Linked DNA regions of Homo sapiens: all the other regions are linked to region 4. The links come from fine-mapping of genetic effects on plasma protein levels. A gene starts in region 4. Each other region holds a variant in brackets. All regions are shown on one strand. Distances are from middle to middle.

Region 1 (6,415 bases), 520 kb before region 4:
ATCCTGGCTAACAAGGTGAAACCCCGTCTCTACTAAAAATACAAAAAATTAGCCGGGCGCGGTGGCGGGCGCCTGTAGTCCCAGCTACTCGGGAGGCTGAGGCAGGAGAATGGCGTGAACCCGGGAAGCGGAGCTTGCAGTGAGCCGAGATTGCGCCACTGCAGTCCGCAGTCCGGCCTGGGCGACAGAGCGAGACTCCGTCTCAAAAAAAAAAAAAAAAAAAAGAAACTATATTATGCTTACACACACTGTGAATCTCTAAAGGAAGGGGTGTTATGGCCTGCATGTAAAAGCTTCATTTTCAAAAGAAATGAGCCTGAGGCAGAAGATTTCTGCACTATTTAGGAAGACTTATGTGCCTTGTTAGGAAGTACAATCCCAAGGAGCATGACAGGGACAAGGCGGGGGAAGCAGAGAGGGAAAATGAGGCTGCACTGCCAAGTTGGCTGCCACTAGGGGGCAGATGCTGGCTCCTGTGTACACCACGTTGCAGGATTGTGTGTAATGCAGGAATCAGGGGGAAATGTATCCAACAACCTGTGGGAACCAGAGAAGAGACCCATGGTGACAGCAGGCAGCATCAGGTACAGGTGCATGCTTGAGGTGAGGTGCTGTTGGGTTGCACCTGCCTGCAGTCAAAACCCATGCAGAGCTTTTGGCCAGCGATGCAGCTCCAATAAGCAAGGGTAGGGAAGAAAACATCCAATGTTGTGCAAATGCGTTCTGATACCAAGAAACACAGAATGCTGGGCTTCCTAGAGCTACTGACTATAGAGTCATCTTTCCCATGAATAGACAACATGTCAAAGGGCACTTACAATCCGCACAATGGTCTAAGATTTACCAGGCTGCACTTCCCCACTTCCCCGTATAACCCACATCCTGAAACCTGCCCTTCTTTTTCTCATACCACCATTGACCCATCCCTAACCAGCCACTAACCTCCCTCTCTCTTTACAGTCACAGTTATGTTTCTCTTAGCAAGGGTCAGAAAATATAGCCCATGGGCCTAAGTTAGACCAGCACCCTTTTTCTCATACCATCACTGACCCATCCCAAAACCCCTCCAACCCTGTGACCTCTTCTCAACATCAACCTCCCGCCAGGAGAGCAACTGAGCACAATGGAAATAATACACAACTTGGGATCAGAAACCCATGTTTGAAAACTGGCTCTCCACTAACCAGCTGGGGAAGCGCCATCACATTACTCAATTTCTACCAACTTCAGTTTCTTCAACTCAAAAAGGGACTGACAGCACAGGATGATATGAGGAATTACGAAGTAACTCATGTAAAGGGTTACCCACAATAGTTACACATGACATTGTAGCTATTCTTTTTTTATTATTATTACTGCATCTTTTGACATTGTTGGCCTTGCATTTTCAAGAACTTCTCTCATCCCCCAGTTTCCCTGCTGTCCCTCAAATTCTTCCTTACCTCTTCTATTTTTCTAAGTCACATTCTGCTATGAGCTGAATTGGGTCCCCCCTCCCCTAATATGAGTTAGGGGAGGGGGTACACAATTCAAGTCCCAACCTCCAATGTGATTGTGTTTGAAGATAGCAACTTTATGGAGATAGTCAAGGTTAAATGAGGTAATAAGGGTGGGGCCCTGATCAGATGCGGTTAGTGTTCCTATGAGAAGAGACACCAGAGAGCTCTTTCTCTCCCACTTTCTCTTTCTTCCTGCTTCTCCCTCCATCTCCTTGTTTGCACACAACAAAAACAGGCCACATGATGATGCAATGAGAAGGTGGCCATCTGCAAGCCAAGAAAAGAGTCCTCAACAGAGCCTGACCCTGTGGACCTTGATTTTTGGACTTTCAGCCTCCAGAGCTGTGAAACAAGACACTCTTGTTGTTTATGCTGCTGTCCAGTATTTGGTATTTTGTTATGGCAGCCCAAGCAGAGTAATACACCTTCCCTCTCTCCTCTTCCTCTTTCTACTTTGAAATGGAGAAGTTCATCAAGGTACTAATGCCCTAGACTTCATTCCCAATCTCCCCTCCAATTCTAATCTCATTCCCGCCATTGACTTCACCTGTCACTCACAAATCCATATCTCCAACTCTGACCTCTCCTATGAACACCTGGAACCAAATTTTCAAAATCTCTGTTTGACATCACCACTTGAGTATCCCACAGGCACAGCAAACTCATAACATCTAAAACTGAACTCATCGTACTCTCCCTGAGAGCCCTTCAATACCTTTTTCTGTCTGTCAAAACCTTTGTACAACAAGAAAAGACATAAAGAGAAGTGGATAGTTGAATAGAAGGATGAAAAGATAAACAGGCATATAAAATTAAAGCCATCATTTGAGCACTTAACCTATGTGTCATATACTGTGCAAAAATATTTACATGCATCAGTTTGTTTTATTTGTATAATCTCTCCTGTTTTACAGATAAGGAAACTGAAGAAAGGGTATCTTAGTCCATTCTTGCACTGCTATAAAGAAATTCCTGAAACTGGGTAATTGATAAAGATAATAGTTTTAATTGGCTCATGGTTCCATAGGCTGTATGGGAAGCATGGCTGAGGATGCCTTAGGAAACTTA[T/C]AATCACGGCAGAAGGGAAAGGGGAAGGAGGCACATCTTACACATAGCTGGAGCTGGAGGAAGAGAGCAAAGTGAGAGCAAAGCGAGAGGTGCTACAAACTTTTAAACTGCCAGATTTCATGAGAGCTCACTCACTATCACCAGAACAGCAAGGGAGAATCTGCCCCCATGATCCAATCACCTCCCACCAGGCCCCTCCTTCAACACTGGGGATTACAACTGGACATGACATACAAGCAAGGACACAGAGCAAAACCATATCAAAGGGTAAAGCAACTTTCCAAGAGTCACAGGGTCTGTAAGTGATGAAACTAAGTTTGCAAACCAGGCAATCAAACTCCAGAATGAGGCTTCAACCAGGTAACTAGCTTTTGCTCAGCCAACCTTCTCTCTTCTCTCAGGATAACCTCTTTGCCACCATGCCTATCTAGGCTCCTGATATGCAGAAAATAGCAACACATGTTCACTGTACTTCACTCCCTGCTCTCCCTCTTCTCCCTCTCTCCCACATCATCCCCCCTTTGCCAACACTATTTCTATAGCCTAGAACATTCGTACTTTCCCGTGAGAACTGATGCATGTGTCACAGTGTGTATGAAGCTTTGCCTCATCCCTACAGGCAAAATTCATCACTCTTTCCCTGTGCTTCTTCCAGCACATTTTATTTTCACTGCTATCAAAGAACCTATTTCTTAGTATGATACTGAGCTATGTGTTTGTCTTCCCTGCTGGATCACTAGCTTCTGGACAGCAGGACTTGACTAGTTCATCTCTGTGTGCTGCATGTGTTAAGAGAGCACCTGCCACTGAGTAGAAGGTCAGTAAGTGGCTGTAACTGAGGTTGAATTCAGCACAAAACCTGCCAAGACATTAGTTTTTTGGACGAGTGGGATGAGAAGAAGCCTGACAGCTGGCAAGGACCTATGCCTGTGTCCAGGAAACAAAGGGACCACACATGGGAAACCTCCACCAGAGGGAAAAATTGCAAACATGGGGTGCACTATATACTAAGTAATCTCACAGACTCATAAAATCAAACATGCCAGGGGCAGAAGGATGCCAGATGCACGGGCCAGCTTATTCCTTAAGGAAAAGAGGATACTGCCAATGAGGAAGCTAAAGCCACAGAGGTTAATATTCTTCACAAGATTTGGTAGCTCATTAATGTGTATGTGGAGATTGGGTGGTTGAGGAGTCATTTTCTGCTTAAGAAACATGAACACATCCCCAAAATGTCCAAATTACAGAGACACACGTGTGAATTCCTCAGAGACATAAGAATATGTATCAGGGCCGGGCGCGGTGGCTCACGCCTGTAATCCCAGCACTTTGGGAGGCCAAGGCAGGCGGATCATGAGGTCAGGAGATCGAGATCATCCTGGCTAACACGGTGAAACTCTGTCTCTATTAAAAATACAAAAAAATTAGCTGGGCGTGGCGGCGGGCGCCCGTAGTCCCAGCTACTCGGGACGCTGAGGCAGGAGAATGGCGTGAACCGGAGAGGCGGAGCTTGCAGTGAGCCAAGATCGCGCCACAGCACTCCAGCCTGGGTGACAGAGCAAGATTCCGTCTCAAAAAAAAAGAAGAAGAATATGTATCAGAGCATATGAAACAGAATAAGTTGTATCCACAAATTTAAGAGTGCAAGAAACATTCATTTCTCCATAACCTGTGATTCAAATTAAATCTGTCTTCACACCAGGGTGGTGGAAACTTCCATCCCAAGATTTTAAGGTAAAGATGGCAGATTGAGCACATGCATCTAAAGCACCCTCTCTCGTAATCCCACTGAAACTACAGCAAGGAGATTTTGTTTAAAAAGAATAAACTCAAAAGGCAGGGAGACGAAGAGAGAAGACAACATCCCCCTGATATTGGAGGCTGGAAAGCAGATGGGTGAATGGTAACTGACTTGGCAGTTCTAAGCCAACAGTAGGGAGAGCCAAGAAACAATCCAAAGAAGAATGCAGAATCCTCAAAAGGCTTCAGAGTTGGCAGCACCAGGTGTCACCTCTGGAAGTGGGGTAGAATGGAGGAGGTAGCTAAGAAAAGGAGGATCATTTGAAAGCTGTGTAACTGTCAGATCTGGAGCTGACTGTGTGGTATTGTCAAGATGATACAATAAGGAGCCCAATTCCAGCTGGCCATTTACTGGCTAAGTAGTGTTGGGCAAGTTACTTTACCACTCTGTGCTTTAGTTCTTGTATCTGAGAAATGGGATTTTAACATTTCTCTCTTTGTAAGTTAAGATTTGTTAAGAATGTATACTCATGCCTGGTACCTAATAAATTCTTAAAAAAAAAAAAAAAATAGATCCCCACTCCCAATTACAAACCATTGGGAAATTGCTTCTTCCCTATCTCAGCTGGTCTGAAGAATTATTATCTGGGGAGAATAAAAAAGATTGTCTGTGAATAGGAAACACCATGCACACTTAAGGGCAGAGTAGCACAAGGGAAACAGATGTATTAAGGAAACTTGCATACTAAACATTCACCACCTTCTTTCTTCCTGGACTCCAGAACACTAGTGACCAGCCACACCTTCCCTGCAGAAGTTTAGAAGAGCCTTTTCTGGAGAACCCAACCAGCCCAAAGGAAGACACTGATGACACCAATCCCAGAGGTTCCCAGGTAAATATTTCAAGCTGATCCTTCTACAATGAAGCTCACAGTCCAGAAGTACATCAAATAATTCATAGCATGTGATTATCTCTTAAGTCACTTGACTCTTAAGCCTGAGCAAACAACCAAGGACTACCAGACGTGTGAAGACAGCCTCTAACATGGAATGCAGAGAACTAAGTGACAAGCAAACAGAAAGGAACCACTGGCAGAAAAGGAAAAGACATTGCATCCATCTTTGAAAAAAATAAGACAGGAGAAGAAGAAGGAAGAAGAAGAAGAAGAGGAAGAAGAAGAAGAATGAGGGAAGAAAAAGAAGAGGAAGAAGAAGAGGAGGAGGAGGAGGAGGGGGAGATTAGAAAACAAAAGACAACTCTTAGAAATGGGAAACATAATAGCAGAAACAAAGAAACTGGACTCATTTCCCATTTAGAAAAAAAAAAGTGCAGCTAGCTGCCAGTGCAGTTTTCTCAGGGCAAATGGGAAATGAGGTAATAGAAACTTTAGAAGATAACTTTTTTAAATCACAGAAATTAAAAAGAAAAGAGATGAAAAATATCATTTTAATTTAAAAAGATAAAATTACTAGGTCATGAGGTCTAACATCCAAACAATGTAATTTCCAGAAAGACAAATGACAGACAAATTACTAGCAAAATAATTCAGGCAAATTTTTAAGAACTAAAGGACAAGAATTTCAGATAGAAAGCATTTACCAAATGCCCAAGGAAATGGATAATGATAGAAACACCTCTATATTCAGCATAATAAAATTTTAGAGAAGTTCGAACAAATAGACAATTCTAAAACATTTCAGAAAGAAATAGCAGGTCACACACAAAGGGTTAGGAAGCAGATGAGTTTGGAATTTTTACAAGCGGTACAAGAAGCTAGAAGCAATAGGATGATACCTTCAGATCTTGAAAGAAATTTTTTTTCAACTTCTACCAGAGCTTATACTCAGAAAAACTATCAACCAAATATAAGGGTAGGATAAAAGTTGTTTTAAGATATGTAAGTTCTCAAATACCTTCCCTTCTTAGTAAACTACTGGAGGATGCACCCCCACCAGGGTGAGGTCAAGCTTGTAATTCATAAGATATCAGTAGAGTACACAGAAGAATTTTACCTCAGCGGTGGGAACAATTAGCCCTAGAATAAATTCCGATCTGTCTGGTCCTACCTAACAAAGATTGAAAGCAAGAACCAAAGGAATCAAACTAC
Region 2 (6,415 bases), 530 kb before region 4:
TTATAGTAGCTTTATTCATAATTTTCAAAATCTAGAAGTAATCAAATGGACCTTAAAAAGATGAATGGGATATATACACATATTATATATCCATGGTAATTAAAAATTAATATTTTTCAAACATGAATGGATAAACAAACTATTATACATTCATACAATAGAATCTGATTCAATAATAAAAATGAACTATCAAATCACAAAATGGCATGGAGGAATCTTAAATGCATATTGCTTAGTGAAAGAATCAGTCTGAAAAGACTATATATTATACATTTCCAACTATATGGCATTCTGGAAAAGGCAAAACCTATAGGCACTGAGAAGATCAGTAAATACCAGGGATTGTCGAAAAGAGGGAGAGGGATGAATAGGTAGAGCACAGGGAATTTTTAGGACTCTGAAACTATCCTGTATGACACTGTCATGGTGGATGCATGACATTACGTATTTGTCAAAACCTATAGAATGTACAACACAAAGTGAACCCTAATATAACCCATAGGCTTTATTTAAGAATAATGTATCAATATTGGCTAATCATTTGTAACAGATGTATCACTGTAATGCAAGATGCTAATACCAGGGGAAACTGTGAGGTGGGATGGGAGTATATGGAACCTCTTTGTATTATTTGCTCAATTTTCTATATACTTAAAAACTGCTTTGAAAAAAATTCTATTAATTAAAAAAGAAAAACATAGACAGTGAGAAAATACTTGCAAATTAGAGATTTGATAAAGAACTGAATCTAGAAAACATAAGGAACTCTCAAAACTCAATAGTAAGAAATTAAATAGCACAGTAAAAAGGGAGGAGGTATTTAAACAGATAAGTCACTAAAATAGATATTCAAATGGCAAATGAAAATATGAAAGGATGCTCAACATTATTCATCATTAGAAAAATTTGAATTAAAGCAACAATAACATCCCACTACACAACCCATTAGGATGGCTAATATTTACCAGAAAGAAAATGACAATACCAAATTCTGGGAAGAATATAAAGCAACTAGAACACATATGCACCATTAGTGGAAATCCAAAATGACACAGCCACTTTAGAAAATGGTTTGGCCATTTCTTTTAAAATGAAACACATTTGATAAACAGCCTTGCAATTTCATCCTTAGATATTTACCCAAGAGAAATGAAAACATATATTCATAGAAAAACTGGTAACAAGGGTTTATAGTGGCTTCATTCATAATCACCAAAACCAGGAAATGCCCAAAAGTCTTTAAAGAGGAAAATGCACAAACAAACAGTGGTTCATTATATAATGGAATGCATCAATTTAATGGAATACAATGCCTACTAAAAAGGATTCATCTATGTCTGATAAACATGACATAGATGAATCTCAAATGTATTATGCTACCTGATTAAAAAAACAAGCTCAAAAGATTATATACAGAGTGATTCCATTTATTACCCTTTTTAAAGTCAAAAATACCTACAGAAAACAGATCGCTGATTGTCAGGATATGGAGGTATGGGGAGAAATTGACTATGAGGTGACAGAAATGTTCTTTATATTGATTTTATTGGGCACAGGATAACTTCTTGAGGTAATAAAAATGTTCCTTATCTTGGTTTTATTGGCGGCTACACAACTGCATGCATTTTTCAAAACTCTTAGAAGTTTAGAAGGAAGAATTTGAATTTAATGTAGACACTTTCCCTTAGTAAATCTGATTTTAAAATATATGCTTAGACAAATCCTGAAGGAGACCACATCTGCTCAACTGGATGGGAAGTCCTCTCTTTACAGGCATTCTCCTGTAGACACACCTCCATGTCTACCATTGTCCACCTTTTGTGCATTGCACTTTGACTTTTCCATACATGTCCAGAGAGCAGCTCCTTCAGGGCTCTAGTGAGCCTCTCTTCCTTAGAAGAAACTTAGGAGAGGAAAGAGAGTGAGATGAACCACAGGCTTCATTGCTAGAGGTGGTATTCAGGTTGCAATTGGTATTCATCATCTCCCTTCTGTACTATCCATTCTAAATTCTTTCTGCCCTCAATGTTGAGGTGATAACTTTGCAGATCAGAATCAATTACAAAACAAGGACTCCCTTCTTGCCTGCTGATTTCTGGACACAGTTAACCCAGTGGGTCCATACAGCGTCCATAAATTTTAGTTCAATTGTACCCTTGCTGGTGAACATGTATCTTTCTGGGGGACAGAGGCCTCTAACTCTGCAAAGCTCAGAGCTGCACATAGAAATCACAAATTCCTCCACTGAGACATTAGCAATGGTGTCATGTAGGGCCTCTCCTGCTTCCACCCCTTGTTTCTCTGACTTATCTGTTGTTCCTGTTGAGGACACAGCATTGCATAAAATTCTCTGTTTCAATGCATGTACCACTTTCTGAAGAATGGTACTCCATCTTTGCAGAGTATTTTTCTTGAACAGTGATTCATCTGTGCCTTCAGCAGGCCATTCCAACAATCTATCAGGATGAAAGCTTCTGAGTGATGATGTATCCAGTACAACTGGTAGATCCCAAGGTCAGTGGTCTACTCCCACACCTCCTTGACTAGAAAGTTGGTTCCCTGGTCAAATGCTGTGTTATATGAAATTCTATCGATAATTATCTAAGGTTTGCGAGTTGGAAAGACGATCCTTAGATATCCACTCTTGAGAGGATAAAACTCCAGCTCTTCCAGAATAGAAGGGAACAATATAGTCAACTTACCACCAAGTGGAAAATGAATCTCTTCAAAGAATACCATCATCCCAGGAGCAGAGCATAGGTTCTCTTGCTGGCAGGTAGGACATCCAGAGGAGAGTTTCTTGACTGGCCATTTTAAATCTTAGTCCATGACACTTTATCTAGCCTCCATGTCTCTGTCATTGTGGCCACTTCATTCTCACAACACAACTCTGACACCAGATGTGTGTGAGTTTTTTCCCATATATTATGGAAGCAATTAATTCTGCAGCAGAACACCAGCTGGGTCCTCTCCAATTCATTACCAATACTATCTACCTGGAGATAGCATCAGATCTCTTAGAGGTTGAGGGATCTTTCCCCAAACTGCCTCCTACTTCCAACACCAATCACAAGCCCGCCCCAAGTTGTTTTACCTGTGCTTCTGACCAACTGACTATAAATCAAGATTCCCATGACTTTCTTAGTATTTGAGTAATTTGCAAGAGCGGCACACAGAACTCAGGGAAGCACTTACACTTACTTGTCTATCATAAAGTGTATTTTAAGGGATAAAAATGAACAGCCAGATGAAGAGATACACAAGGTGAGGTCTGGAAGGGTCCCAAGAAAAGGACCTTTCATCCCAACGGAGTTGACGTGTGAACACTCTCCTGATGCGTGGAGATGTTCTTGTTCACCTTCCTAGAAGCTCCTTGAATTCAGTCCTTTAAAGTTGTTATAGAGGCTTCATTATGCAGGCATGATTAATTGAATCATCATCCATTGGTGGTCAGTTCAGCCTTCAG[C/A]CCCTTTTCTCCTCCCCTGAGGTGAGGATGGTGCTATGAGTTCCAATCCTTTTAGCACATTGTGCATGGCAACCCACCTACAAACCTATGGTTATCTAGGAAATTTGCAAAACTCACCTCATTAACATAAACTCAGATGTGGTTGAAAGAGGTTTGTTAGAAACAGTAAAAGACTATATCTCACCTATATTGCTCTGCAGCTGTTCTGGAGCTGTCTCAAGAACCCAGGAAAAAAGGCAATATTTTAACAAAAGATATTCTTTTTTTTTTTGAGATGAAGTTTTGCTCTCCTTCCTCTGGCTGGAGTGCAATGGTGCAATCTCAGCTCACTGCAATCTCTGCCTCCCCAGTTCAAGCAATTCTTCTCCCTCAGCCTCCCAAGTAGCTGGCATTACAGGGATGCACCACCATGCCTGACTAATTTTGTATTTTTAGTAGAGACAGGGTTCCACCATGTTGGCCAGTTTGGTCGCGAACTCCTGACCTCAGGTGATCCACCTGCCTCGGCCCCCCAAAGTGCTGGGATTACAGGCATGAGCCACCATGCCTGGCAACAAAAGATACTCTTATTTCTCTAATCACCTAGGAAAATATGAGGGTTATAGGAGCTGTAAGCCAGAAACCGCTGATGAAAATCAAAAAATTTATATCTTGATATCACAAAGGTAATTATTAATAGGTAAGAACTTACTACTGCCATTTTGTTCATTGTTTCCTGGTTGTTTTGTAGATCCTTTTTTTCTTTTCTTTTCTTGCTGTCTTTCTTTATGATTAAGTGATTTTCTCTAGGGGTATGCTTGGAATCCTGACATTTTACCTTTTGTCTATCCACTGTAGGTCTTTGCTTTGTGGCTACCATGAGGCTTACAAAAAACATCTGATAGAACAGGCTATTTTAGTCTGATAACAACTTAACTTTCATGGCATAAAAAAAGCTCTGCACTTTTACACCACTCTCCTGAACTTCAAATGTTTGATGATACAATTTACATTTTATGTTGTGTATTTCTTAACAAATTATTGTAGCTATTGTTATTTTTAATTGTTCTGTCTTTTAACCTTCAAACTAAGAGAGAGATGTGACCTGATGACCTTTTAAGAGTCTGGGTACAGCTTGTCTTGCTTTCACTCAGTTTTAAAGTGGCTCTTTTTTCCCCGAATAACACATTCTCACCTACTTCTCAGGATGGTTGGATACCTTTTCTTCAATGATATAACAGAACAAACATGTGAGACTCTTTATCTATTATAATGTTTCTTGTTATTTCTTATCTAAATTATAACTCTATAGTAAATTTTTTTAGTCTTTTCTCAAAGAGAAGCCCCTAAGGGTTTCTCTCTGTTCTTCTACTTAACAGTGGAAATTCATGGAGTTATTCAGGATTTACTGTTTAAGCTATAACGATCCAAAATCAGAACAGAGCCAGAATTAAGTTATGTAATATCTTTCATCACCCTGGTTTTCCTTATCTATTAGTGACCCAGTAATTACCTGGGTTTCAGAAAATTATCTTAAAATAACCAGAAATACTTTATCTCAGAATTATTTTGTATTTCCCCTTTTAGGTGTATAGTAATAATATAATTTGAAGTGTTTTTCTCTCCATTGATCTCAGATATAGAGGAGGAACAAAAGTGCTAAGATATTGATTTGTCTGTCATAATATGTGAAGGGCCCATTACCCTCCTCTTCAGTTCCACTTGCGGTAGAGCTCAGCTCCCCTTTGCCCTCCCTCAGTCACTTTGCCTTCCTCGGGAATGTGCATGTTTCATAAGACCTGGCCCATCCTCAGGACTTTAAACCAAGGCAAGATCAGGATTAGTGCCAGGGGCCACTAATGAAGGCATGATCCCCCACCCAGGAAGGTGTGGAGTCAGCCGGGGTTGGAGGTGACTCAGTGCCTCAGTCTGTTTGGGCTACTATAGCACAAATATCATAAACTGGATCACTTATAAAGCAACACAAATTTTTTCCTCACAGTTCTAGAGGCTGCGAAGTCCAGGATCAAAGTGCCAGCAGATTCAGCATCTAGCAAGAGCCTGCTTCCTGGTTTATTAACGGCATCTCATTGTGTTCTCAAATGGCAGAAGGGGCAAAGCAGCTGAGATCTCTTTTCTAGGGGCACTAATATTCTCTAGTGCTCTTTTATAAGGGCACTAATCCTATTGATAATGGCATTGCCCTTGTGACTAATTACTTCCCACATTGGTGACTAGGTTTCAACATATTAATTTTGAGGTGATACAAACATACAGAACATAGCACTCAGAAATCCAACCTGCCCCTTCTCTAGGGAACACCAGTCCTAAAATTTCACAATAGTGACTTTAGAAAGATTAATGCTGTTTCCACTGGCTCCCAACGTTTAACCTTGGATTCTCAAGAGTTTCTATAGGAATGCTTTGGCATTGATTGCCCCTAACCCAATTGACTGTACATTGCAGAGGAACCACCTCCTTGCTTTCTGGGGCATTCCCAGCCTAAGAGCCTCATTCAGGAATAGGAGGAAACAGTCCAGTATGCTCCACACTTCTGGGCATATTTTTTCAAAAATATTGGTTTTTTTTTATTGTCTCCCTTGTGGGCATCAGGGCCGGACATTAACATCCCCCATTGAGCCCCCAGTTAAGGCGGAATGGAGCATGAATGAAAGCTTGGGGGTGCTAAACATTCTGCTGAGTGCATCACTAACATTTTCACACTTACTCCTCACAATGACTCTGTGAGGCAGATTATCCCTAATTTATAAATGAACAAAGGCTTAGCATAATGATCGTAAATTCATTCATGAGTGACAGAGCAGCAATCCAAGCATGGGCACAACTAACCCGAAATCCATGCCTTTGCATTTATCAGCCAATAAGTATTTATATTTCTTTCTAAGGCCAGACATCGTTAGAATAATAATAAACCAGATGAACCTAGTGCCTGCACTGGCCTCAGGAAGT
Region 3 (6,415 bases), 47 kb before region 4:
AAGAGTTGCATAACCAGGGGAGGGGAGCAGGAGGAGGGATTTGAGCCGCAGCTGTTCCCAACAAGCCTGGTGCCTGTGTGTGTGTCCTCAGGCTCACATGAGTATACTCCAAAGCGCTGGGGAAAGGATGAGGCTTGGGAAGTCGCCTGCTGTCAGAGGAAGAACCCCATCTGGGACCAGAAAATGGGGTTGGGGTTCTGGTTCTGAATCTGCCACTAACTAGTTATGCGCCTTGGAGTGGGACCACTGGACTCTTCCGTTTACTTTTCTGCAATGTCAATGTCTTTTGTCTGTGGCCTTTATATAAGTCCTGGTTAGATATCACGAATATAAACCTCAGGGCTGCATTTCCTGTCTCCCATAGAGCACCTGAGCATAAAAAATGTCCTAGGACACTGTCTTAGAACAGAGGGGCTGCCTGCCGTCTTGTCAGTCTCCGACCCCGAACCCGCCCAGCCTTGCCGGCCCCACTAAGAGCTTTGGCTGCTACAAATGACTTCTTGATACACTGGCTCTTTATGCACTGTTATGCTCTGGCTCATGATAAAATTTACACCAGGAAATACTGATCTAGGACAACTTAGTTCATTTTCAGATAAAGAAACCAAGCTCCAGAGCACTATCAGCAACATAGCTAATATTGAGTGAGGTCAGGCCCTGTGCTAGGGGATCTTCTGATGAGTCCTACAACAACTCCATGAGTTAGATACCATTATCCTTTCCATTTTAGATGAGGAAACTGTGGCTAAAAACAGTTAAGAATCTGCCTGAGGCCATGCAGTAATTTATGGATGGAGCTGGAACAAAAGCCGATCTCCTATTCCTCAGGCTCAGGCATTTTTCAATGGCATCTTCTGACTCACCTGGTAGAGCAACCCACTCTGTTCCAGGAATGCCCACTTCCCAGGCCTTTCCTCTCATGAGTCCTCACTTACATCCAAGCCTAATCCCTCTGCAGGGCTGAGCTTATGGCTGCGCCCTCCAGAGCGTTCCCTGTTCTTTCTCAATTTCTTTTTTGTTTTTTTGTTTGTTTTTGAGATGGAGTCTCGCTCTGTCGCCCAGGCTGGAGTGCAATGGCGCAATCTCGGCTCACGCAACCTCTACCTCCCCAGTTCAAGCTATTCTCCTGCCTCAGCCTCCCGAGTAGCTGGGATTACAGGCATGTGCCACCATGCTCGGCTAATTTTGTATTTTTATTAGAGACAGGGTTTCTCCATGTTGGTCAGGCTGGTCTTGAACTCCCGACCTCAGGTGATCTGCTGGCCTTGGACTCCCAAAATGCTGGGATAACAGTCATGAGCCACCCTGCCTGGCCTTCTGTCTCAATTTCTACCTTATGGTGTTGGTTAATACATATGTCAGTCCTTTTTTCATGCCTTCGAGATCACAAAAGCCTTCATGAGAGGAGATAAAGCAGGGCAAGGCCAAGATTAAAGGGTAAAGTTCATTTGGGCAAAAGACACAAGGAGGAAGAAGCAGAGATGTGGGAACAGGCAAGCTGACGGCTGGGTTTGGGGAGGTGGAAGTATAGCTGGGAAGCACTGAGAAAATCCTACTGGCTGCATTGGAAGGAAGGAAAGAATGAGAAGCCAGTATTGTTGAAACAGACCTGGCTCCGAGCTAGGCATTTTATGTGTGCACTGGGGCCCCAGATATCTTTGCAGGTCATACCTCACTGGTCTAGGCCTGCCTGGAGCCACAGGCATGAAGGACTGGGGAACCTTCTAGAAAAGCCAAACAACATAGGTAGGGCATGCTGGACCAGAGAACAATGCCTCAGGGTCAAATGTGAAGAATGAATGAATGAGTCGACTGAGTGTCTACTGCTGGGAATCATCCCTGGTCAGTCCCCACTGGCATCTTGAGTAGATATGGTGGGGCGAGATAGGGTTAGGAGAGAATAAGTAAAAATTGAAATTAGTCTGGGTGCAGTGGCTCAGGCCTGTAATCCCAGCACTTTGGGAGACTGAGGTAGGAGGATCGCTTGAGGCCAGGAGTTTGAGACCATCCTGGGCAACATGGCAAGACCCTGACTGCAAAAAATAATTTTTTAAAAATAGCCAAACATGGTGGTGGTTGCCTGCAGTTCCAGCTACTTGCGAGGCTGAGGCAGGAGGATGGCTTGAGCTCAGGAGTTCGGGGCTACAGTGAGCTATGATTACACCATTGCACTCCACTCTGAGTGACAGAGCAACCCTGTCCCTATAAAGCAAAACAAAGCTTTATGGATGGAGAATTTCCAAAGGCCCTTATTAGAGGTTGGGGTCCTGTCTCCAAAAAAACCTGAAAGTGCCTTCTCTAAGACCTCTCTGAGCTACCTCTCTGGGGCCCTCCTTGGAGTAGGGCACCTTGAGGAGAGGGGTGCCCTTGTCCCTTATGTGGAGACATCTCCACCTTTGGCATTCGTAG[C/T]AATGCCCAGAAGGGCTCAGCTGAAATAGTAGTGTGTTGAGTCCATATCCATGGGGCACTCAAGGCAGGCAGCTGTTTGCCTGGCAGCCTGGGACAGTTTGTGGGCTCATGAGAGACACCTCTGATGTCTCCCCAAAATATCTGAATCTGTCCAGTTCTTCTGTAAGTAGGGTCTTATAAGTACCAGTGAAACTGGGCACTTACAACTTGTGAGAGAGCTTCTGTTCCCACAGGCTGTCAAGGCCTTGGAATTTGAGTTTGATTTTCACAAACACCCTGCATGAAGTAACTTTATTTCTCTTTGTCAGATAAGGACACAGAGGCCAAGAGATAATGTGACTCACCCAAGGTCACAGCCCCTTAATGGAGCAGCTGGGATTTGACCCCAGGAAGCCTGGGTCCAGAGCTTAGCCTCCTTCCAATGCCTTTAGCACCATCAGGAAGAGTTGCTTCATTTCACTGCTTTTTTGCTATGAGACAGTGTCACAGGAAAGAATTTCCAAAGGCCCTTACTGAGGCGGGGGTTCTTTCTCCATCTTCCCTGGCACTCCAGTGGGGTCTGTGTTGTCCGTGGCCTTGTTGGGATGGGATGCTTTGCAGATGACAGTCCCATGGCTGCTCGCCTCTGGAAAGCTGCCTACTTGTCTTGCTTTGCTGTGCCCTGCCCTGGCCTCTCTGGGCCTGTGGATATTGCTATGGAAGGGGGTCCCCCGCCCCTACCCTCAGGACTGAGTGATTCAGAAAGCAATAAGCCTCTGAGTGCTGCGGCTGGGACTCCCCTCCCTAATCCCCAGTCTGTCCATGTTTATCCGATGGCCTCAGGAGGGGGTGTAAGGGGCTGGCGAGCAAGTGGGCAGCTGCTGAGCTTGCTGGGCCGGTGGGACGGAGCGGTCCAGGGACAGGCCCCTGCCTGGGCCAGAGAGGAGCCAGGAGCCATGAGGGTGGCATTAGGCATGCTCTGGCTCTTGGCCCTTGCGTGGCCCCCCCAGGCCCGGGGCTTCTGCCCCTCTCAATGCAGCTGCAGCCTCCATATCATGGGTGATGGCAGCAAGGCCAGGTATGGTACCGGGTGCGTGGGACGGGCAGCCCAGCCTCCATTGCTTTGCCAGCTAGGCTGGGTTGGGAGGAGTTGGAGCTGGGGCCCTGGGTGAGGTCTTCATCTCCCTTGGCCCTTGAGGACCAGGGATCCTATGGGGTGGACTGTGCTGCATTGTTTTCCAGCAGGCAAGGGGGTGACTCTATTCGAGAGGTACCAGGTATCTATACACATGGGCCCGAGGGTGAGGCACAAGTATGTCAGTTCTAAGAAGTCCTTCCTAAGTCCTCCTCCAGGCTCCTGGTGAAGAGCCCTCCTTAAAGGTCCAGGAAATCTCCTCCCTTACTGCTTTTTCTTCTCTTTTATTTTTTCTATTCCCTCTTCTTTTCTATATTTCCCCAGCCCCTTCTTTCCCAGGCCACTTGCACTCTCTTGCCTGACCTCTCTACAATATTCAATCATATCCCAGGCATTTCCTACAACCCCACCCATGATGGGACCACTTGCCTCTCATTCTCTTCCTCCTCTCCATCTTCGCTGGCCAGATCCCAGGAGCCTCAGCCTCAATACCTTTTTATGAGTGCTCCAAAAGCCAGGAGTGCCCATCCCATGACAAGCATGCTTCCTTCCATCCCCAGCCTTTTCCTTGACTTTCCCCACCCTCTGTCTGATCCCTCAGAGCACCTCCATTCTCTCCTCCTCTCCTTTCATGGGACATTCCCATGCCACTGTGGCTTGTGGACCCTTGCTCTTCCACTACTGCTCATTTTCTTCTTTTCTTTAGCAACGTTTAAATCATCTTTTCTCCAACTTCTTTAGCTTATCCATTAATGACCTCTGCATGGTTTCTGAGCCACTGATGGTTTCTGATCCTGGGAACAATGTTATTGGAGCTACCCTTTTAATAATCTTGGCAATGAATGTCGAGTTGATTGGGGGATGAGAGGAGAATGGAGAAGAACCACTAAGAAAAGACACCTCAAATGATCTGAGAACCAGAATGAGCTCCACTGTAGCCCAAGTGTCCAAGGCATCAACTCATATGAAGTGTAAGGGTCCTGTCCCCAGTAGAAGCCAGGCTGAGCCCTGAACAGCCTGCTGTTCCCAGCCTGGGCAGTGTCACTGGAGTGACAAAAAGCCTCCCACCACCCGTAGAAGGCATAGGGCTGAAAGCCACACAGCATCATTGACAAAACCGGTCCTGGAACCCAGGCATTCCGATTCAGTTTTCAGAACACTTATCTGGTGATGCTGCCATGGGCAGGGACCAGTGGTAAGTTCCAGGCAGCAGAGTTAATCTTAAGATGGAAAATGAGTTTCTAGGGCCGCTAATGTAAGTCAGTGGGCATTCCCTTCTCTGAAGCCAGAGCTCTTGGTTCTACCCGCCTGACTATCCCATGGCTAACATGCACCAGCCCATCTGCATGGAGGGTCCTATGAGGCCATGAAAGGTGGTAGCGGGCCCTGAGGTCCCCTGTGGCTATGGGCACAGACTGTGCAGTTAGACCAAAGCTCGTTCTGCATGTCAGAAGCCTTCCTCAGATCCCTCTCTAACCTGGGCCTCTCAGAGAGCCCAGCCTTTATGTCTGAGCTGTTGTATCGTGAAGTGTGTGCCTGTGGGCACTGGGGTTGCCTGGGAGGAGCTGGGCTATGCATCTGAATGGATTTGTGCCCATGCTGTTTGTCCCAGTTTGCCTCTGGTTTTACCCCACCCGGAGTTGTGCTGGAGGTTTGAGCTGTGGTGTAGGCTTGCATTGAGTTCTTATGGTTTCCTTTAAATGCCCCTTTTACCGTTTTCTCTCCCGTTCAAGATAAGTTTTCCAATCACCTGTCTTTCTCTCACCTACATCCAGACCTTCCTCCTTGCAATACCCAAACCTGTATTACTTTTTTTGAGACAGGGTCTTGCTCTGTCACCCAGGCTGGAGTGCAGTGGCACAATCATAGCTCACTGTAGCTTCCAACTCCTAGGCTCAAGCCACCTTCCCACCTCAGCCTTCTGAGTAGCTGGGACTACAAGCATGAGCTATCACACCTGCCCGAACCTATTGTAGTATCTGGAAATATCATTGCTGTAAATGCTCTTTCTTCCTGAGCTAGATTACACACTGTATGGAGACAGGGGCTATGAGGCTGATTCTCTTCTGAATTGCTCATCACTTAGTAAGAGTTCCATGTATATTTGCTCAAAAGGAGTGAGTAAGAATATCCGTGCTGTTTGTGGACACTGTTTACAAGAAAAAACAAGCCCAGCCCAGCTGCCTTTAAGTGGAGCATAGACTTATGCTGAGGGATGCTGGTGATATGTGTGTGCACCTCCAGGAAAGCCTGATATCACCAGTAGGTTATGCTATTACAAGAGAACAACCTCCCTTAGAAGGGCCTGTTCAGTGGCTGGGGGGCTTAGGATTTTGTTTTCAGTTTACGTAGTATAAAACATAGCCCTGAAATGTAGGCTTCTTGAGGGCAGGGACTGCCTCCTATTATCTCTCTATCCTCTGCTTTAGTCTCAAACTTAATGGAATAAGGTTTAAGAAGTCGTGGTTTGGGTAGAAGAGCTGATAAGACTGACCCGATCTACTTGCAGTGCTGAGATGCAAACATTGATGACAGTGATCCATACCCTTGGGCTCATGCAGGGTGGCAGGCAATGTGCTGGGCTTCCACATGCATTACCTCATTTAAACCCCATAACCACCTTGTGGGGTCTATTTGATGGCAAAACTGAGGAAAAGAGAGGTTACCTAATGTACTCAAGGACACACAGCCAGCAAGCAAAGAGCCCAGGTGTGAATCCAGCTGTGGGGCTGCCAAGTCCTGGCTCTTAAACAACTTGATCATCGATCGCATGGCTCCGCAGAGGTGGGAGAGACTTGAGGTGGTTTCATTTTTGATGTCCTTGGTATATTTTTTGTTAAACGATAAACCAAAACAGTTACAAAAATTGAGGTATAATTTAACAAACGAACA
Region 4 (5,760 bases):
AGCTCTCCCTGCCCCACGCACCCATCAGAGGAGGTCTGGGCGTGCCAATAGATCCCTGGAGCAGGGTAAGTGGTGGTGACAGCATGCCTGGCAGAGTAGAAAGCTGCCTCCCCCCATGCTTGAGACCTTATTTTGGGACTTTTGTGTCCGGGGTTCTTATAAACTCAGAGACCCAGAGGGTCTGTTGGGGCTCCAACAGAAAATACTCTCCTGCCACAGTGAGGCGAGATGTCGACCTTAGTGTGCTCAAGGTCCCATAAAGACTTTTCCTCTTTCTTTTCCCTTTTCTCCCCTTTTCTCTCCACACCTCTCCACATTCCAGGGCTCTGCAGAGGCTCACATCCATGGTGTCTCAGTGCTCCCAGGATATGGTGAGACCTCAATGGGGAAGGGTATCGGATGTTGCCAGATCCCGCGGGTGCCAGGGAGTGGGGTACTGGCAGCACAGTCAGGCTCCACTGCTGTGTCCCCACAGCAGTCCCTGAGACCTCCCTTTCCTTTCTCTACCCTGTCCTGCAGCTAGTGGAGGCTGTCACGAGCTGGCAGCATCCCCACAGCTGAGGTCCAGTTAGCCACACACCAGGCTGCTATGCGGTCTGAAAAAGCCCATGCCCTGTTGCCTGCAAGTTCTCAAGTGTGTAGAGTGGAGGAGCTCTGCCAAACTCAGACTCACTGCCAACCACCCTTTCCAGCCTTGACCTGCTCTGAGTTCCTGTGCCTCTCCCAGGACAGGCTTGAAAAATCACTTTGTGAGGTTTCTTTCAGAAACCTCAAAGTGCAAACGGATTTATTTTTAATGGAACATGCTTAAAAGATTAGCAGGGCTGGCAGGTGCTCGTTAAAGGAGCCCACTCTTCGCTCTGTGTGAAGGAGGAGCATGAAAGTAAAGCCCACTCTGCTGATGGGAAGTGGCCCAGAGATCTCACAGAGTGGATGTGCCTGGGGTGTGCCCCCTCATCCCCTACTCTGTGGAGAGGTTCTAACCAATGTGCTCCAGGGGAACTTCAGCCCACCGAGGTCTGTCTACAGGCAGTGGCCCCGCAGCACTCCCCACACCTCCCCATACCTCTCTGTCCAGCTCTTCAACCAGGGTGATGTTTCCAAAAGTGGGGTCAACAGAAAAGACGCTTCTAGTGCTGGGGTCAAAGCTGATGTGGTAGGAGATGGGGTCTCCCTCAGGGTCTGTCCCATTCAGGGTGTATACGTGAGAGCCTGGAAGGAAACACAGTGGAGAGACATAGAATCTGAGACCCAACTTTTCCTAAAAGTGGCAGATGCTCAGGACCAACGATTCAGCTGTTTATAAAGTGACTATTCAACTCAGTGCCAAAGGTACTGCCCTGAACTTGGTGCTCATTGCTGGCCTCACCCCTGCTGGCTGCTTCCCTCTTTGTATGTTTATTCTTCACAGCGGGTGGTTGTGATGATCAGCCACTTTCCAGATTGTAATCTATAACACGGGTTACAGAGCAGGTGCAGGTCTGCCGTGCCTAACTGTAGTGCCTATGTTCTGCTCAGCCTGGTAATAACTCCTCTCTCAGGATCCAAGATTGAGGGGCTCCTGGGTACAGGGAAGGGGAAATGGGAGCAGCCATTAAGGCAGGAGGGGTGACCCACAGTGCACCACTGTCCCCGATGCCTGGACCTGGTTCTGCAGGGATTTCTGAGCCAGGTGCCTACTTTGCTCTGCTCTCCCTTTTCCCCGGGTTCCCACTACCCACAAAGTGAGGGAGAAGGAGTGTGAAATCTCCCCTTTCTCCTCCCCTCTCTCTGCATATCTCAGCAAGTTGGATGTTCTTAGGCCGTTTTAAAGCCTAGAGACCTGGGGCTCAGGGAGGTAAATACATTTGTTCAAGGTCACACAGCCATAAGGGGCAGCTGTAGCTGCCTGCCTCGCGGGGCGACCCTGTCTGTGGGGGGGAGCCCTGGTCTCCAGGACTGGCCAGACTTAAGTCGCCATGGCAGCAATGACCTTCTTTCCTGCCATTGCCCAGGGGAATTCGGAGAGCAAACAAGGAGCCCCCGGGCGCGCGCAGCAACTTGGGTGGTGCCTGGGGCACTTTGTGTTCTAAGTCTGCCTGCACCCCTCAGGGAGACCTATCGGGAGCAGGTGCCAGGGCTACTCACCTACAGGGGTGTCCTCTGGGAGGCTGAACAGAGCCATGTTTCCGTTGGTGCTGCCGACCCCGTTGTCGAAGAAGTGCGGGGCGAAGTTGGCCTGAGCTGGAAAAAGAACACAGAACAGACGGACACCCAGGCAAAGGACACCCAGACACCAGGAGGGAGCTTCGCACCAGCGCGGTCCCGCGTCAGGCCCAGCTACTGGGCAGGAGGGCGCTCCGCCTCCCCAACCCAAGTGCACCGAGGGACCCCACTGGGGCGCCGCCCAGAGGATGCCCCTGACCCCCACTCCGCCCCCGGTGGGCTCGGGCTTGTCAGGGACACGTAGCATGTGGGCGCTTAGAACCCAGGTAGCAATCCAACCCCTCCTTCATCAATGGGCAGATTGCACCCGCGCTCGGAGAGGGGCAGTGCCCCAGCCCAGCCAAGGTCAAGCCGCGAGTCAGGGCACTATCTCCTGCCCCACGCAGCATCGGAGCTGCCACCAAGCCTACAGCTCTGGTTCCCAGCAAGCGGAGAGCAGCGGGGGTCCGGGCGCCAAACCCTGGGGCCCTAGGATGCCAGCTCTGGAGAAGCGCCCCGGAGCTCCCCACTACTCCGCTACCCCACTCCCCACTACCGAATGGGCCAGGAAGATGGAAGGACTTCTCCGCTCCCGTCCACCAGCCCGAGTCCCACTCTGGAAGTGGTCCAGGACCATGTCCCTCTGGCCACCTGGGTGACGCCAGCGCCCATCTCCCTCGCCATCCACGCGGCCAGCGCGGCCCAGCGGCCACTCACCCAAGCAGAGGCGCAGCAGCCCCAGGGCCAGGGCGGCCCACCGGCAGCGCCTCATGTCTCCGCCGGCGCGGAGTGTCGCCTGCCGCCGCCGAGACCGGGCGCAGGGGCACGGAGCATGCCCTGGGCCCGCGGGGAGGGCAGAGACCACAATGGGGGTAGCGGCGACTGCAGCCGCGGCGGGAGGGGGCACGGGGCGGGAGCGGCGGGTGGCGTGAGGGCGCTAAGAGGATGACACGGCTCGGATCTGCTCCTGCCGGCCGCCTGACGAGACCAATTAGCGGCGCAGAGCGGAGCGACAGGCTCCCAGCCGCGGGCGGGGGCAGGAGGGCGTGACAAGAGGACTCCCCGCCCGCCACGCCCCCTTTGCCGGCGGCCCCCAGTCCTGGACAGGAGGACACCATGGGGGACAGGAGTGTCTTTCCCCCAAGTTGTCCTGAGGCTTTCCCAGGGTACTTAAGTCCTGGTGGGGCTTGGGCTTCGCAGTTTTCTTTTCTCATCAACTTCCTCTGTGACTTTCAGGGGCTTAGCTGTCTTCTCTGAGCTAAGCATTCCAGAAGAAAAGTTAGTGGAGCGGCCGAGAGGGCCTTGCCTTAGCAGTCTAAGCAGGTTCTATAAGCCGCGTGAGACCAAAGGCAAAGAGAAAGGGTGATGGATGGGCAGCAGATGGTAAGGGGTTATCAGGACCCCCTCTCTGTGATCTCAACCCATTCCTGCCCTGTTCCCCAGGCTGGACCACCTCTCCCAAAGGGTCTGATCTGTGTGGTGGGCAGCAGGGAGGACCCTCAGGTGTCCACCAGGGTGAGAGGCAGTTCTGCTCCCCATTCCCAGTCAGTGCCCAGTCTGGGACCATGAAGGGGCAGCTGACCCACTCTTCAAACCTTCCAAGGAAGAGTGAAGGGCCTGAAGGCAGAGTTAAGCCCCATCTTAGGACAGACTTGCACAGAGCTGGCCAAGATAGATCTGAACTGCCCGAGAGGCACGAGATCTCATTCCTAGAGGGTATTTACACAAAGCAAGGCACTGCTATTGGGGTCCTGGATGCTGATAACTTGAAGACACAGGTAAGCCCAGGAACCTTTTTGGCTGCTGGTAAAGCTCCTTGGGCTTCCTCGTTCTCCTGCTCTGACACTGGAGGGTGCTTGGAAATGCAGCCTGTTTTCCTTTTCCTGGTTGGGCCATTTATGGGGGTACAGGTCACTTCAAGCCCAAGCCAGGCCACTTCCCAGGATGCCCTTGGGTGGATGTGTTCTCAGATAGAGGAGATCCCTCCTCTGTGTGCTCCTGGGAGAGGTCTCCACAGCTGAGGACTCAGCATTCCCCCCCTCCCCCTGCCAGGGGCCTTTGAGGGAACAGAGCACCCCCCATCCCTTGGTCTAGCCCTACATGATCTACTGTGAGCAAGGGTCAGGGATTTGCAGAGAAGAAGGAAGATGAATCAATGGTTTTAGAATGTGCAGCAGTTTTCAGGCCTAATTGGCCGAAACCCTTGTTGAGTCTCCTTAGGCTTGGCTCTTTTGCTGAAAAGACACACTTTAAATTGCACAGATGTTCTGAATCTGCCTCCCAAAGTGCTGGGACAAAGCTAAGGCAAGTATTCTGCAAGTCCCATATAGGGATGTGGAGACTGAGTCTTGCCGTGGATTTCCCAGGAGCCAGAGGCAGAGCCAAGGTTTCCTGGAGTAGATGTCTTGGTGGGCCGAGAAAAGCCAGCTCTCCCTGGGTCCTGTTAGCCCTGCTCCTCACCAATCTAGGGCCGTTGATTTCTCTCTCCTCAGTTCCCTCAGTCAACAGCCATGCACTGGAGAGGGAAGGGGAAGGAGTAGCCTACATGCCATGTGCTGTATGTGTGCTTATGTATATTTGCCCATATTATCTTATTTGACCTGCACTGCTCTCCCAATGTGATTTTCTCTGCTTTGCAGAGGAGGGAGATTTCCTCATTGGCTGTGTACGACCAAGCAAGTGACTTATTCTCTCTGAGGTGCAGAGCTTGGATTCACATACAGTTTGGGTTGGCTCCAAAGAAGGTTCAAACTCTTTTTTTTTTTGAGCTGGAGTCTCACTCGGTCACCCAGGCTGGAGTGCAATGGCGGATCTCAGCTCACTGCAACCTCTGTCTCCTAGGTTCAAGTGATTCTCCTGCCTCAGCCTTTCAAATATTGGCATTACAGGTGCACGCCACCATGCCCAGCAAATTTTTTTTCTTTTTTTTTTTTTTGGTAGAGACGGGGTTTCACCATGTTGGCCAGGCTAGTCTTGAACTCCTGACCTCAGGTGATCCACCCATCTTGGCCTCCCAAAGTGCTGGGATTACAGGCATGAGCCACTGTGCCCGCCTGGTTCAAACCCTTTTCATGGCAGAAGAAGATGATCTTGAATCTACTGAAGCTTCAGCTTCTAGGCCTCTCACTCACACATCACACATTCCTTCCAGAGCCCCAGTTTTGTATTTTACTTTGTATTTTCTTCTTCTTTCTTTTTAGAGATAGGGTGTTATTATGTTGCCCAGGCTGGCCCTGAACTCTAGGGATCAAAAGACTCTCCTGCCTCAGCCTCCTGAGCAGCTGAGAATACAGGCAGCACCATTACATCTGACTTCTATTCTGATGTAGAAGGGTCTGAGAAAGACCCTCCACACCCCCCACTCCAACTCCTGCTGCTTCCTTCAGCTGTTTTAGGTTCAGATCTGCTAGTGTAACCAGCTGCCCAAATTTGCCTGGGACTGAGGGGTTTCCAGGGATGCAGGACTTTCAATGCTAAAACCAGCAAAGCCTAAGGTAACCTGGTATTTGGCGGTCACCCTAGATACAACCCTGTCCTCAAATCACCTAAGGACCTGGGAAAACAGCAGCTCTTTAT
Region 5 (6,415 bases), 36 kb after region 4:
GCTAGCAGGCCTGCAGACTCCTCCGCAGGGAATGTGCTGAAATGTCATGATCTCCACTATGCCACAAAGATGAGACTAAAAGGCAATGTCTTTCATTCTCCCATGGCCACTCTAGGTTGGTGTTGAAGCATGTGTGAAACCAGTCCCTGGGCTCTTGATAAGCATACCCCCTTCATGTTTGGCCTTGCTCTCTCTCTCTCTGGAGTTTCTGTCTTTTGCCCCCACCCCTTCATACCCAGCCCAAGTTTCAGCCTAAAGTAGGGGACTCAGGACCCTTGTATTTGGTGTCTTTCTACCTCCCCTACACTTGTTAAAATAGCACAGGCTTTACAGCCACATGATCCATGCTCTAACCAGCGCTCTCCTATGTTTTAGCTGTGTGACCTGCACAAGTTGCTCAACTTCTCTGTGCCTTTGTTATTTTCGATGTAAAATAGTAGGTGCAGCTGGAGAGGAACAGATTCACTGGATGAGAGTGTAATGTTAAAAGCGCCATGCAATATGAACATAATTTTTTATTATTTTAGGTGGCCAATTTTCAGAAATGGGGTACATAGCTTTCCCTTCCTTTCTCAATTTTTCTTACCCCCCACGTTTATTATAATTGAGTATTACAATAGTTAAGGATAAAAGGCTTTTACTTTTTTGAGACAGGTTCTCCTCTGGCTATGCTGCTCATGCTGCAGTACTGTGCCTATTCACAGGTGCAATAATATTATGTGCCCTACAGCCTCAAACTTGTAAACCAAAAGTAAATTCTAAGCCCCATCCCCAACCAATTGAGTGGACTCCTCCTCTGGGCCAAGGGCATTCTAAAGTAAACCTAAAACGCTAGTTCAGGCATGATGGGAATGGGTGGGAAGACAGGCCTCATTACCCCCTCCTCCCGTTGGAATTCAGGCACAGCTGACCAGCATTAACGTTAAAATAGAGACCTGAAGACTCTTTGTAGCAATATTACAGCTAGCAGGCCCTGAAAGAAATACGTATTTTACCTCCAAAATGTATTTCTTTGACATATTCTGAAATGGCCCTGCAAAGCTGTCTCGAGGGGAAAATCAACATTCTGTAGAGTTGATTTTCATCCTTTTCCAGGTCTTTTTCCAGATCCAGGAGAGAATTAACTAAGAGTCTAGTATCCAGTCTGATAAGAAGCATTTATAATCAATTCTCTCTGAAGCCTGCCACCTGGAGGCTTCATCTGCATAAGAAGAACCTTGGTCTCCACAACCTCTTATCTTAACCCACACAATCCCTTCAATTGATTCTAGATCTTTAGATAAACTTTCAACAAATTGCTATTCAGAAAATCTTTGAATCCACCTATGATCTGGAAGCCCCCCAGCCCTCTGAGTAGTCCCACCTTTCCGTACTGAACCAATATACATCTTACCTGCATTCATCGAAATCTTAAGTCTCCCTAAAATGTACAACACCAAGCTATAGCCCAACCACCTTGAGCACATGTTCTCGTGATCTCCTGGGTTCTGTCATGGGCCATCGTCATGCATAGTTGGCTTAGAATAAAACTCTTCAAATATTTTACAGAGTTGGATTCTTTTCATCAACAAACTCTTGGGCTCAAGTGATCTTCCCACCTTAGCCTCCCAGGCAGCTGGAACTATAGGCACATGCCATTGTACCTAACTACAGATAAAAGAGTTTAGAACACTCAACTAACAAGGCCATTCTGACCCTGAAATTCTAGTGAAATTGAACTTAACGCTGATCCAAAATGTAATACTATTCCCCAGGAATTTTTTTTTTAAACTTCTGGATCTTTTTGGTTAACATCGTAACCACTGGCTTAGATTTCCAGTTTCTGCAGAATTCTCATTTTTAATTTATAATATGATAATGAAGTATATTTTAAAATTAATTTTTTGATAAACTATAATAATATATTATCATGGCAGACACAGTGATGTTATATGTACACAGTGTGGAATCATGGAATCAAACTAATTACCATATCCATCACCATAAATACACATCATTTATAACATCTCCTCATTCCCCCCCACCCACCAGCCCCTGGTAACCACCACTCTACTCTCCGCTTCTATGAGTTTGATTTAGATCCCACATGGAAATGAAAACGTGCATTTTTTGTCTTTCTGTACCTGGCTTATTTCTCTTAACATAAGGTCCTCCAGGTTCATCCTTGTTGTTGCTAGTAACAGAATTTCATTCTTTTTAAAGGCATTTTTTGAGTGGCATTCCATTGTGTATATATAGCACATTTTCCTTATCTATTCATCTGTTAATGGACAGTTAGCTTGATTCCACATCTTGGCCATCATGAATAGTGCTGTGATAAACAGGAGTACAGATATCTCTTCGAGATACTGATTAAATTCCCCTAGAATTTATAGCCAGTAGTGGGACTGCTGATCTTCCTTTCTTTTTCAACAGCAATCTGTCTCCAAAAAATACCCAACCTCCCACTTGTGCTCAAGGATAGCTGATACTGCTTTAATGAGGAACGACTATTTTTCTTGCCACAATTTGAGGCAAAGGAAGCACACACACTGAAATTAAGGTCCAAATGACTGATCCTAGGCTCATATCCAAGTGCAGATTTTGACAGAGAAAGGTGAGAGGACAAACAGAGCAAGTGCGAGGAGGAACTCGGGCAGGAGGGAGGGAGGTTGTGTAGAAAGGAGGATTAGCAGTGCCAAAGCTTTCCTCTTTTGCCGGTGCTTAGAGCTGGAAAACTGCAGGTAGGGCTGAGATGGATCCTGTTTGTCAGCGTCTGTTCTGTACTTTGCAATTTGACAGCAGGCTTCCCAGCAGACATGTGTCACCTTGCCTCCGCATTTTCACCCCCACACCTAGCACACCCAGGAAAGGGCAGGGATGTGGGAGGTG[A/C]AGCTAGGGCCATGTACTCCGGGGTAAACTTCAACCTCACAGAAGGAGCCAGGCTAGGAGGACCCTGAAGGCCCTGGGTTCAGTTCCGCAGGGCGGAGAGACTGCTTTCCTGGGCCATTCCACTAGTTCCCGGATCTGGAAAGCTCCTTGTAAAGTGTTTCCATAATTTTCATTTTCTCCCCATGTGTCCTTTGCCTTTTACAAAATTACTTAAGGGCAGCTATAATGTACTAAAAAAGATACCAAAAGCCCCATTTTCTTATCAAATGCCCATTTTTTTCTGCCACTCAGAATTAATAACAGTGAAAGTCTTGTCATAATTTATCCAACTTCTTTTTAAATAACCGTTCTATTTAAATGAGGAAGGCAATCATGCTTGCATCTTCTGAGAAACAGTGTGGTTAAGGGTGGCGTCATTTGATTGTCACACAGCAGAGTCCTGAAGGACATTTTATAGCTTTTCAAGAATACCCACATTTTTGTCAGGGTCTTGCAGGCAGAGAAGGTTGGGTTCTCTGCAAAGGAGATCAGGAAGTCCCCATGATGCTACACATGCGAGCCAGGCCAGACATTCCCCTTTCCACAAAGTACCAACCCTTCTGGGCTGGTGCGTTTGGACTCAAATGTCCCTATATGCACTCCTCATATTTGCTTCCGTCCTCTGAACTCCGGTGGCAATTAGTCTGAATAAACCTCTTGTAATTTCTGGATAATGATTTTATAATTACCTTGAATCATTGAAGTGTGTTGCTATTTCTTATCATTTAACTACTCTCGTACTACTTTAGAGTGTCTAATAAATGTTGATTTAATCTCTTAAAACAGTGGCTTCTAATGATTAACATTCCCCACCCACAGTAAAGGCTTCTGCCTCCAGCACTGCCTTCTCTCTCTAGAATTAGATCCTCCTAGCAACTACCCACTCCCACTGCTCATTGGATGCTGTCTTCTAGAATGATGGGTTTCCAGCCATTCATCCTTGTGTTTCCCCACAGCTGGTGCTAACAGTTCATTCCCTCAAGGTGTACCAAATGGAATGAACCTATTAAATCCCTAACTCTACTAACAGATCATACCAAACCAGTAACGTGCCCTTTCTTAACTTCCATTTATATTCCTGTTTGGGGGTCATTCTGTGTTGCTGACCTCAGTCCGTTCAGCCTGCATACTTAAAAGTACGTAACTGGGCCTTCTCTCTTCTTCCCCCAACCCCACCATGTGAGGACACAGCAAGAAGGCTGCCATCTACAAGCTAGAAAGTGATCCTTGACTGAGTGTGGTGGCTCATGCCTGTAATCCCAGCACTTCGGTCTCAGAAAAATAAAAGTGATCCTTCACCAAAAACAGAACATGCTGGAACCTTGGACTTGGATTTCTAGCCTCCAGAACTGTAAGAAAATAAATTTTTGTTGCTTAAGCAAAAAAAAAAAAAAAAAAAGAAAAAGAAATCTTCAAAAAAGTACATAACTGGGTGGGGTGAGCTTGTTTGTACTTCAGAAGATCCCCTCTGAATCATAAATAAGTAATAATTAGTTACTGAGGTCATTTATCAAAAGACAATGCTTTAGATATCTGTTCTTACAGGACAGTGAAGTATTAGAAAATCATGGGAAAAAGAAAACCACCGGCAAATATTTTTCCATTTTAAAATGCCACTGACTTTAAGACATGCTAGTTTTGAGAAAAAAAAGAAAAATCCTGAAATAGAATATGCACTTCAGAAATGAAATGCAAAAAAATGCTGTCTCTTAGAAATGAGATAATTCAACTACTAAGCAAATAAAATAAACCTGTAACATTCCTCCAATGAGATGGCCATGGACCTGTTTTCTCTGTTGACTGTGTAAAAACACTCTGGGGACACAGGTGAGAAAATCCATGTCAGGCATATGGAGGGTTAACTTGGAGGAATGATGGCCCACTGACACCATACCTGTGGGTCATCATGCTGCTTTTACAAATTGCCCAGTGGAAAGCATAAATTGAATGTTTAAAAACTACTAAACTTGCGTATACGGTTGTGAGGAAAAACGTCCATTCAGTCCTGCCAGAACACATTAATTTTATCTCGAGTGTAGCCACGGGGATCCTCGCACTTCTACTATCTGTATCCAGTGAGGTTGCAACAACCTCACCATCCATCAAGCTCTCTGTAGAAGGTGGAAGGTTGAGAGAAGTCCCCTGAGGAAGAGTGACATTGCGCTGGGTGACTCAGTCTGACGCAAGCCACAAATGAGGCAGAACAGGATGCTGAGGCTGAGGGGAAGAGCTTGTGCAAGGCCTCCCCTCATGCTAACTGCGCAGCAGCCCATAAGATGCGGGCCATAATGGTCGTTATGATTCTCCTCCCCCACCAGTCTTTTATTTAGGTTCATTTTTGCTTGTGGCAAAAAATACTCTCTTCATGGTTCTCAGATGTTAATGAATTGAATGTTCACCGTCCATCTTCCTGAATTGCTTCACAAAAGAATCTTACTTTAAAGGTGGAAAGTCCTCAAGGTCATAGCTTTCTAATCTATTCCTGAAAAGTCATTTCCATTTTGTGCTAGTTAAAAATGGAATGCATTTAGGATTTCATCTTATTGATGAAATTGACCTTAAAAAATGGTCAATTTTGATTTGTAGCTCGGAGTGAACTGGGCAATACAAAAAAGGACTATTTTGTACCGTAAGAAATAGATGTGAGGAAGGCACGATGATTTCCAGTATCCTTCACTGAGGTCAATTTTTTTTTCACAGAAAACTAAAATGTTCCTGTTCTATTTCCTTTAATTTACTCAGAATACTGATTCCCAAGATTTTAAAAGTGACTTACACTTTAATAGAATCTCAACCTATTTAATTTGTATAGTGCTTTTGTGATTCTCAAGCAAAATTCTACTTCTTCAACTTTTACTTTGGATTCATGGAATACATGTGCAGGTTGTTACTTGTGTATACTGCGTGATGCTGAGGTTTGGAGTACCAATGATCCCATCACCCAGATACCGAGCACAGTGTCCAATAGGTTTTCAACCCTTGCCCCACTCCTTCCTCTAGGAATCCCAGGTATCTATTATTACCATCTTTATGTCCATGAGTAGCCAATGTTTAGTTCCCATTTGTGAGAACATGGGGCATTTGTTTTTTTGTTCCTGGGTTAATTTGTTGTTTGTAACAGGATGATGGCCTCCAGCTAACTCTATAAGGACAAGCTTGCTTTCTTTTATATGGCTGTGTCCTACACGATTTTAGATCTATCATCTATCCTCCCGGCATAATTGGTTAGGGAGTTTGTCTCATTATTCTTCCCAGCCATATGACCTTGTGCAAAGATCAAACTTTGGGCAAAGAGTTCAATTCAAACATCAGCTATTACTAGTGTAGCTGGGCCACCCTACCCCACTGGAATTATATGTCTTGGGTATCACTCAGTTTTAGTACCTTTAACCTGGACACGTTACCCAGATACAATTTCAAGGTAAACATGCCTGCCTGTCTTCCTAGTTTTTTTTTTTTTTTTTTGCCCAGCAGGAGTGCAGTGGCACAATCGCAGCTTCGAAAT

Alleles and levels. Alleles are on the strand shown, and positions count from the first base shown. The strength of an association depends on the size of the effect and on how common the allele is. Not every link is listed here.
As copies of T replace C in region 1, the plasma level of the protein whose gene starts at base 3,180 in region 4 goes down (weak association).
As copies of A replace C in region 2, the plasma level of the protein whose gene starts at base 3,180 in region 4 goes down (moderate association).

What was found. PIP is the chance, under the fine-mapping model, that this variant and not a neighbour inherited with it causes the effect. The UK Biobank Pharma Proteomics Project read protein levels with antibody pairs (Olink). The fine-mapping took linkage between variants from a reference panel, not from the people measured, so its PIPs are less certain.
Region 1: its variant is fine-mapped to the plasma level of the CDHR1 protein (UK Biobank, PIP above 0.99).
Region 2: its variant is fine-mapped to the plasma level of the CDHR1 protein (UK Biobank, PIP above 0.99).
Region 3: its variant is fine-mapped to the plasma level of the CDHR1 protein (UK Biobank, PIP above 0.99).
Region 5: its variant is fine-mapped to the plasma level of the CDHR1 protein (UK Biobank, PIP above 0.99).

What each region holds. Positions count from the first base shown.
Region 1 is chr10:84,710,098-84,716,512 of GRCh38, reverse strand. No RefSeq gene overlaps it. Among named protein-coding and RNA genes, the nearest start is that of CCSER2, 380 kb to the right of the region's middle. The variant T/C (reference allele first, on the strand shown) is at 2,568.
Region 2 is chr10:84,720,325-84,726,739 of GRCh38, reverse strand. No RefSeq gene overlaps it. Among named protein-coding and RNA genes, the nearest start is that of CCSER2, 390 kb to the right of the region's middle. The variant C/A (reference allele first, on the strand shown) is at 3,467.
Region 3 is chr10:84,238,369-84,244,783 of GRCh38, reverse strand. It overlaps LRIT1 (leucine rich repeat, Ig-like and transmembrane domains 1), which reads left to right and starts at 3,238. Exons shown (of 4, transcript NM_015613.3): 1 at 3,238-3,466. The coding sequence starts at 3,345. The variant C/T (reference allele first, on the strand shown) is at 2,410.
Region 4 is chr10:84,191,957-84,197,716 of GRCh38, reverse strand. CDHR1 (cadherin related family member 1) reads right to left here and starts at 3,180. Exons shown (of 17, transcript NM_033100.4): 1 at 2,902-3,180; 2 at 2,128-2,223; 3 at 1,067-1,212. The coding sequence starts at 2,956. RefSeq lists silencers at 2,965-3,084, 3,155-3,284.
Region 5 is chr10:84,155,639-84,162,053 of GRCh38, reverse strand. No RefSeq gene overlaps it. Among named protein-coding and RNA genes, the nearest start is that of CERNA2, 13 kb to the left of the region's middle. RefSeq lists enhancers at 1-319, 652-1,153, 6,229-6,415. The variant A/C (reference allele first, on the strand shown) is at 2,872.